2 separate regions of the Homo sapiens genome follow, and region 1 is linked to region 2. Evidence: fine-mapped expression QTL. A gene starts in region 2. The other region holds a variant in brackets. All regions are shown on one strand. Distances are from middle to middle. Region 1 overlaps HLMR1 (hepatic lncRNA metabolic regulator 1). Region 2 holds the start of PAQR9 (progestin and adipoQ receptor family member 9).

Evidence for each region. PIP is the estimated chance that this variant, and not a neighbour inherited with it, causes the effect.
Region 1: its variant is fine-mapped to the expression of PAQR9 in whole blood (TOPMed, PIP above 0.99).

Annotation. Positions count from the first base shown.
Region 1 is chr3:142,932,412-142,936,797 of GRCh38, reverse strand. It overlaps HLMR1 (hepatic lncRNA metabolic regulator 1), which reads right to left. Exons shown (of 5, transcript NR_038455.1): 2 at 3,530-3,593; 3 at 152-375. Among named protein-coding and RNA genes, the nearest start is that of HLMR1, 7.9 kb to the right of the region's middle. The variant G/A (reference allele first, on the strand shown) is at 2,128.
Region 2 is chr3:142,961,902-142,966,287 of GRCh38, reverse strand. It overlaps PAQR9 (progestin and adipoQ receptor family member 9), which reads left to right and starts at 2,614. Exons shown (of 1, transcript NM_198504.4): 1 at 2,614-4,386. The coding sequence starts at 2,952. The coding sequence ends at 4,085. It overlaps PAQR9-AS1 (PAQR9 antisense RNA 1), which reads right to left and starts at 2,230. Exons shown (of 5, transcript NR_125393.1): 1 at 2,190-2,230; 2 at 1,652-1,823. RefSeq lists a silencer at 3,400-3,585.

The DNA of each region.
Region 1 (4,386 bases), 29 kb after region 2:
AAAAATAAAAACAAAACTAGAGGCATCAAAGAGCTAACAAGATAGTAAGAAATAACCAAGCCAAAATCTGAGAGCAAGTAGAAACACAGAAATAAGCATAGTGATAAAGCCAGTATTATTTACTCAAGAGAATTTCTAAATGTACTCTTACCTTGTGTGGTGATTCTGCCTCATATCCTCCTGTCTTGATGACCCTATGAACAAAGCCGCAACCCCAAATGATTGTTCCTGTGCCCTGGGGATACTCAGCAAGTAAACTAGTCTGGACAAGGGCCAATTGGGAGCACACCTTCCTGAGCATCTCAGAATCAGATATGGTCCTTGCCAGTCTAGAACACAGACGGCTGGATTCGCACAAGGGTGGGTTTGTGAATCCTTAGGTGACAATGTTGAAGTAGGATTGGGTGGGGTATGGAGAGCACACAACAATTAGAAAGGGTAAGGCAATCCGTCATTCTTCCTACCTGCCTTATCCACAACAAAGAGGGAGATGGAGCAGGCATGATGCTCACCCTCAGCTCCCGGAGAAGCCAGGCTACTAAGCTTAGGTCAGCCCTGCAGTCGTCTCTGTTACTGAAGTCACCACATGCCTATTTCCTGCTACCACCTCCTTGCCAGTGGATGCACTGAGCTAAGTTCAACTTGCACACACCCTGCCCCAACAATCTTTAATCACTCAGTGCACTGAAAACACTTATTGCCCATACTCTTACATCAGTTAGGGCAGTTGTCCCAATCTTTCTGGCACCAGGGACTGGTTTCGTGGAAGACAATTTTTCCATGGACAGGATAAGGGTGGGGGATGGTTTGGGGATGATTCAAGCACATCACGTTTATTGTGCACTTTACTCTTATTATTATTACATCGTAATATATAATGAAATAGTTATACAACTCACCATAATGTAGAATCAGTGGGAACCCTGAACTTGTTTTCCTGCAACTAGACAGTCCCATCTGTGGGTGATGGGAGACAGTGACAGATCATCAGGCATTGATTCTCATAAGGAGCACACAACCTAGATCCTTCACAAGCACAGTTCACAATAGGGTTCCCACTCCTATGAGAATGTAATGCCACTGCTGATCTGAAGGAAGCAGAGCTCAGGCGGTGATGCGAGTGATGGGAAGCGGCTGTAAATACAGATGAAGCCTCCCCTGCTAGCCAGCCCACTGCTGACCTCCTGCTGTGTGGCCTGGGAGTTGAGGACCCCTGAGTTAGGGAGCTTCTGTCTTCAAGTTACAGAAAGTTCAGCTCAAATGGACTTAGACAATAAAAGCGGACATTGTGGCTAATAGTTCTACTGAGGGTTCTCAGTTTACACACTAAAAGTTGATTCTGACTGATTTAGGAAATAACAAATTTGTTGAAAGGATATTAGGTAGCCCAAAGTCTCGATAGGAAGAACCACTTCCAAAATTAGGTCCTAGTACCAGTCTGGTAAAGGCGGTGCTGCTGGTGGACCTACATTCTGTCTTTGGAGGCAGGATACCAACTGCTACTCCTGAAACTGTTGCCACAGGCACTACTGCTGCCACTACAGCTGCCCCGACCACTGAATTCTCCACTGCCTTGGTGACTTCATTTCTCCAACTTGGGATTCACAGGTCGGTCTGATGGCCAAATAGAGAAGGAATGCCCGTGCCTTAGCTGTGAAGCTGCCTGGGGCTGTGACTATATGGTCCTAGCTGTTTCTACACTGGAAGGCATCTCTGCCCCTCAGTGGTATGCATGTGGTGGGATATCCCCAAACCTAGGAAGGTGTTCAGATAAGGTCCTTGCTCATGTGGCATTTACAGTCTTACAGTGAGGGAGACAGACAATAAGCAAGTAAACCAATTAAAAAGATGATAATTTCAGGTAGTGATTAGCATTATGAAGACTATAAGGAACTCCACAAATTCCAACCCTGATGTTGCCTCAGAAGCAGGAGAGGAGTGTACTGATCTGCAAGTCGACGTAAATCTAGGTAAAAACCATAAGAAACCACTGGGCAGAGAGAAAGGGTGGCTGTGACCTGCTGTGGGTAAACCATAGGCTGAGCAGAGAAAGTCACTGTTAGGACATGGTGCAGGCAGAGTTGCAGGCTGTTTCCTCTCTCTAACCACTGTCCTTGGCAGATAATC[G/A]CCTGGCCTGGAACCACCTTGAGACAAAATATCTGCTACACGGAGGTGATGGGATAATATCAGGGCAGTGCCACAGCCTGGCCAGGGTGAGGAACAGATAATAATGGGAGCATCTGGACCCTGAGCAATTCTACCCCCTGTCAAAAGGAGGTTACTTACAAAGGAGTTGTTTATGGAATTTGGGAGCTGACTGTATCCAGAGCAGGGATGAATGCACACTACGGGATACCAAGGATCAGTTAGAAGCAATGAACCAAGTGTACCTACATATATAACAGATACAGATGGGTCTTTAGAACACACTGGTGAATACAAAACATAATAACTAGAGCAAGGTCTATTGCACAATACTATTTGTGAAACATATGATATACCAAATAATAACTTACATTTGACAATATTACATTTTTAGACAAGGATATATATGTAATGCCTTATAGTGAATGAATATGTGAAAGGAGAGGTAACGGAAATGGAAACCAGGGATGAATGGGGAAAATATCCACGAAAGAAATGTAATAATATTATACCATGAACTGAAGTATGTGATTGACTCGATACTTTTCACATGAGGCATAAAAATTAAAGAAACGATGGAGGAGTAGGAGGGAATTTATTAGCTGGTGTTTGGGCTGCAGGTGGAGTGATCAACATTAAATAAGGTGGTCAGAGAAGGCTTCTCTGAAGAGGTGACATCTAGGCTAAAGTCTGAGCAATGTGGCCAGTCATGTGATGGTTGGGGGATGCGCCCTCCAGGCAGAAGAAATAGCTTATGCTAAGACCCTGTAACAGAAACATGACACCATTGAGGAACAAGGAAAAAGACAGGTGTGGTTGGAGCACAGAGAGCACATCGAAGTTGAGGTTTAGTTTTAAAAGATGATCTGGCAAAGCCTTTCCTCATTGCTAAGTCTATACATACAGTTTGGAGTAATCAGTTTCACAGAATTGGTCATTGCTAGGGAGAAGTGAAGTCCTCTCTGGTATTAGGATGACCTGGCTTGACAGGGAAGTGAACTGTGAGCACCAGGCAATCAGACAGTGGCAGAACCAAATTTGCTCTTACAGGTGCGGAAGGAGCCGATTGTCACCACTGGGAAGACAGAAATTTTACTAGGTACAGGCCTGCCATGCTGAGTCCCCCATGCTAAAGGCTGGACAGCCCTTGTGAAGGACTGGCTTGGCAGGGCTTTTGACACTAGCTGTCTTCACTGTGGTCCTGCTTACAGCTTGTGCCCTCAACATTTCCTGGGCAACAGCTCCTAACTAGGACCACTTTCCACATCTATGCCCTCTGGTGCTTCGACTCTGGTCTCCTTCTGTCCTGTTTCCATACCTTGCCAGAAACTCGACATTTTTTGGTTTCCTCCAAAAGAGCACTTTGTGTATCAAAAATACAAACCTTAGGTTTTCACTCCGTCCTGGGGTGTTGACCTCTTATCTGCATGACAAGTGCTGAATTGCTCCTTTTGCAAAAGAAAACAAAAAAAGAACAATAATAAGCTGTTTTTCATGAACAGAAAATCCTTGAGGACAGGGACCTACTCTACCTTGACTCGCATCTAACCTTGTGCCTAGAAAAATTGTTGGGCCCAAGGTAGGTGCTCCATAAAATGGGTTGAATGAGTTCACACACACACACACACAAACACACACACACACACCACATTCTTAAAATGATGAAAAAATCACATCCTGTTTTCTGTTGCAAAAGTTCCAACTAGAATTGATCTTTCCCAAGATAACTAGCATTAATACAGCTTTGCTCAACACCAATTATTGCTCACAAAGAATTAGTTTTCCTCACTGGCACTATTATGGGTCATAATAATAATGTTTATTGAGCACTGGGGATCAGATACTAAATTATCTCATTTAAAACCTATAATAACCCTATGACTTATGTACTATCCCATCTTTATCTAAAAGAGGAGAAAAACTGAAGCCTAAAGAGACTTGGTAACTTCTACGTGATGGCTAGAGCTGGGCTTTTCATCCCAGGTCAGCCTGACTCCAGATCTCTTAACCGAACTTCTGAAACTCAAGCCAATTTTCTATAATGAAATACATTAAAGTTATATCTGAAACAACTACTACTCTTCTGAATATTACTTTTCTTTTGTAGACTAATCATTGGCATCCATATATTTAAGTATTTCTTAGGGAGCTCAATTTTTTCACAATATTGTACATTTAAAATATAATGTGTACAAGACAGCTTGCAAATAAGCAGCAGAGAAAGAATGGAAGTGAAATCTA
Region 2 (4,386 bases):
TTTGGGGGCCACATTTTTATATCTCAATTTAAAAAGTAAGAGAAATTAATTCTATAGATTGGTAGCAATTAAGGAAAAGCCATATTGCTGTTTTACTTTATAAGTTAGGTCAGTTTTGCTGTTTCCTTAGTTCCTTTTTACTGAGCTTTGTCAAGGTATAGCAAGGACAGCTGACTGGGCTCTGCACCAGTGAACTTTCATGAACACCACTCACTCCATGGCATCAACTGGTTTTGTGCCTCAAGCAGGGTAGGGGATGTGTGAGAAAGGACAAAGGCAGATATCACAAAGACTTTTTCAAAGACTTAACATGAAACATTTTTTTTTTACTTTATAAAATACTGATTTTTTAAAAGAACATATTTTATTAGAGTCAATCTCACCATTCTTTGTCATAAAGATATTTTATCTAACTCAAGTTTTTGCATACCCATTTACAGTCAATTCCATTGTTTTGCTTGAAGTGAACTTTCTATTATATTTTTCTAGATTATGTAAGCGAGCTGATTATGCAACTAAGAGTGTGGTAAATATAAGAATTATTATAGGATCACCATTTTTACACGTGACAGCTCTGGTTGTTTGTGGAGTAACAAAGGGAATATGAAAAAAAAAAAAGTTCGGGCCTGCCCTGGATTCAAGTTTATCATTCCTACACTTGATTAAAACACCTAAATTTAATCCATTTTACAAATAGCCATGGGTCCTCAGTCCAGATATAAAAGGAAATTAGATTTCAATTTAAAACAAGCTACAAACAGTGGAAAACCAGAAAACACTAAAATAAGACACTGGCTAAATAACTACAACAAAATCTCACTTCTTAAAAATCCACGCCTAAAAAAAAAAATCCACTAGACAGGAATGTGTGGCAGTGCAGAAAGGCAGAAGACTGAAGCGCACGTTTGATCTAATTGTGTAAGAGCTTGCTAAATCAGTTACTACTTGAAAGTATACTTCAGAGAGAAGACTGAAACTTCTAGACTGTTTCTAGCATCCTTAAGTAACTGCAGACACTTATAATACTGAATGATATCCTAGTTATAAATAATTCTTATCCATAACTTAAATCCATCTTGAGGCTCTACTAAGTAAATCTTCCTTAACCTACTTAGAGGATGTGCAGTAGCGATGAAAGTAGCCTTTCTTTTCTTTTTCTTTTTTTTTTTTTTTTTGAGACGGAGTCTCGCTCTGTCGCCAGGCTGGAGTACAGTGGCGCGATCTCGGCTCACTGTAACCTCCTCCGCCTCCTGGGTTCCAGCGATTCTCCTGCCTCAGCCTCCCGAGTAGCTGGGACTACAGGCGTGCGCCACCACTCCCACATAATTTTTTGTATTTTTAGTAGAGACGGGGTTTCACCGTGTTGGCCAGGATGGTCTCAAATCTCTTGACCTCGTGATCTGTGTGCTGGGAGTACAGGCGTGAGCCACCGCGCCCGGCCTTAAGCCCCTTTCTTTAAGGCTCAAGGGCATATTTTCACACTGCAGTGCATCACAACCGTTTTCATTCTTCCAGTGTTCCTTTCTTCTGGTCTCCAGCCACCTGCCAGGTACTTCTGATTAATTACATATAAGATTTATCCAAGCCACCCCCTCCGTTTCTACCAACTGGACTTCATTCTCTTCAGTTCCTGCTAGAATGCACCTCCTACCTGAAGTCTTCCCTCATCAATGCCCTCCATGATCAGCCTTTGACTCTGGAATCCCTTAATATATTCCTCAGATCATTAGAGGTTTTCTGAGTCATCATCTGAGATTTTTCATTAAATTGTGGAGTTTGAGCAGCCAGTCCTGAGCTGTCGGACTCAGTTCCAAATAGAAGTCCTAGTTAAAGACACAAAAACAAGAAGATGGGTTAGCTGCGGCTCGAAGAGCTGGTGAGCGCGACCACAGGGCAGCTTGCGGACGGTTCTTTCGGACAGGACAAGGGCGAGGGAAACGGCAGAATGGTGACGCACCTGAGTGCGCCCACTAGACGAAAGAAGACCAACTAAGCCTTCGTGTAGTGCGTAGACAGGCCGACACACACACACACACACACACACACACACTAACACACACGCAAAGACAGTGAGGGAGCGAGAGGCGCATCCCCAGGTAGCTGACAATGACACGGCCCCGATCCGGACGCGGGCTTAAAGCCCCCCGACTTCCGGAGTGCCCCCCTCCCCGGCGACCTCCGGAGATTACCGCTGGCGCATCTCTCCGCCCTGCCCGGCTCCGGCGCCCTCCCCTCCCCCCGCAGCCGCAGCTCCCCGCCCCCCGCGAACGCGGCTCCCCAGTGTCCTCCAGAACGCCCGCGTGGCTGTCGGGTTTCGAACCCCAGGGCCGACTCTAGTACTCGGCGCGCGCGCCGCCGCGTCGCCGACCAGCCTGCGGCCCCCGCATCAATCATTAACGGGGCGGCCCGGGCTGCGGCGGCCCGAGGAGGGGGATGGTACGGAACTCGAGACAGGGGACAACTCTATCCCCCGAAGCGGCCGCGAAACCCTAGCCTGGGAGGCCCCCGCCCTTCCTCGGTGCGCCCGTCCCTCCCTCCGCGCCTCGGCTCGCACATCCCCACCTCCCGCTCCGGGGGCGGCGGCGGCGGAGGCACCCGCACCGCGCGATGCCCAGTCACCGCTGCCGCGCTGCCGCCGCAGTCAGCCGCGCCGCCGCCGCTGCCGCAGCGCGGGCGGCCGCGCGCCGGTAGCAGGGGCTTGGCGAGGAAGCCGCTGAGCCTCGCGCGCTCCGCGCTCCTGGCGGTCGCAGCGCTGCCTATTAATTGATTCTCTTATTGATTTATTTAATTTTTAGGAGCGGCTGCTCGGAGGCACGGGTCTTCTCCTAAACCTGCAGCGACGCCCCCGGCGTGGGCACAAAGGCTCCGACGGCGGCCGGCGGGGGCTGCCCAGCGCCCGGGAGCCGGCGCCAGAGGTCGCCTGCGCGCGCCCTAGCCGAGCCCCGGGCACCATGCCGCGGCGCCTGCAGCCCCGGGGCGCGGGCACAAAAGGCCCTCCGGCCCCGGCCCCGGCAGCTTCGGGGGCCGCCCGGAACTCCCACTCTGCCGCCTCCCGGGACCCCCCAGCGTCTGCCAAGCCGCTGCTGCGCTGGGACGAGGTGCCCGACGACTTCGTGGAGTGCTTCATCCTGTCGGGCTACCGGCGTCTGCCGTGCACGGCCCAGGAGTGCCTAGCCTCGGTGCTGAAGCCTACCAACGAGACGCTCAACTTCTGGACGCACTTCATCCCGCTGCTGCTGTTCCTGAGCAAGTTCTGCCGTCTGTTCTTCCTGAGCGGCGGCGACGTGCCCTTCCACCACCCGTGGCTGCTACCGTTGTGGTGCTACGCGTCGGGAGTGCTGCTGACCTTCGCCATGAGCTGCACGGCGCACGTGTTCAGCTGCCTGTCGCTGCGTCTGCGCGCCGCCTTCTTCTACCTGGACTACGCGTCCATCAGCTACTACGGCTTCGGCAGCACGGTGGCCTACTACTACTACCTGTTGCCAGGCCTCAGCTTGCTGGATGCCAGAGTCATGACTCCATACTTGCAGCAGCGCCTGGGCTGGCACGTGGACTGCACGCGCCTTATCGCCGCCTACCGCGCCCTGGTGCTGCCTGTGGCCTTCGTGCTGGCGGTGGCTTGCACTGTGGCCTGCTGCAAGAGCCGTACCGACTGGTGTACCTACCCGTTCGCGCTGCGCACCTTCGTCTTCGTCATGCCGCTCAGCATGGCCTGCCCCATTATGCTCGAGAGCTGGCTCTTCGACCTGCGTGGGGAGAACCCCACACTCTTCGTGCACTTCTACCGCCGCTACTTCTGGCTGGTGGTGGCCGCCTTCTTCAACGTGAGCAAGATCCCCGAGCGCATCCAGCCGGGTCTTTTCGACATTATCGGCCACAGCCACCAGCTCTTCCACATCTTCACCTTCCTCAGCATCTACGACCAGGTGTACTACGTAGAAGAGGGCCTGCGCCAGTTCCTCCAGGCGCCGCCTGCCGCACCCACTTTCTCGGGTACTGTGGGCTACATGCTGCTGCTGGTGGTCTGCCTGGGGCTGGTAATCAGGAAGTTCCTAAACAGCTCCGAATTCTGCAGTAAAAAGTGAGCCTCCGCCTTGGAGGAGACTACTGGTTCGCCCATCTGTTTGGAGTTTCTGTTGTTGCTATTGTTGGTTTGTTTTCAAATTTCATTGTGTTTTCTTCTTTGCTCAAGGAAGGTGCTGCAAAACCATAGGGAAAAAGTTCACTGCTACAAAGGGATCCCAACCCACTGGAGGCTTTGAAGTAGGGAGGTTGGCAGGGGTGGTCAAGCGGGAGGGAGATAGTCACTTGTTCTTGCCCCTGGAAAAAATTCAGGTGATGTCTTTGACATCCAGGGATTTCTCAAAGGCAGTGAGTAAAATCCCA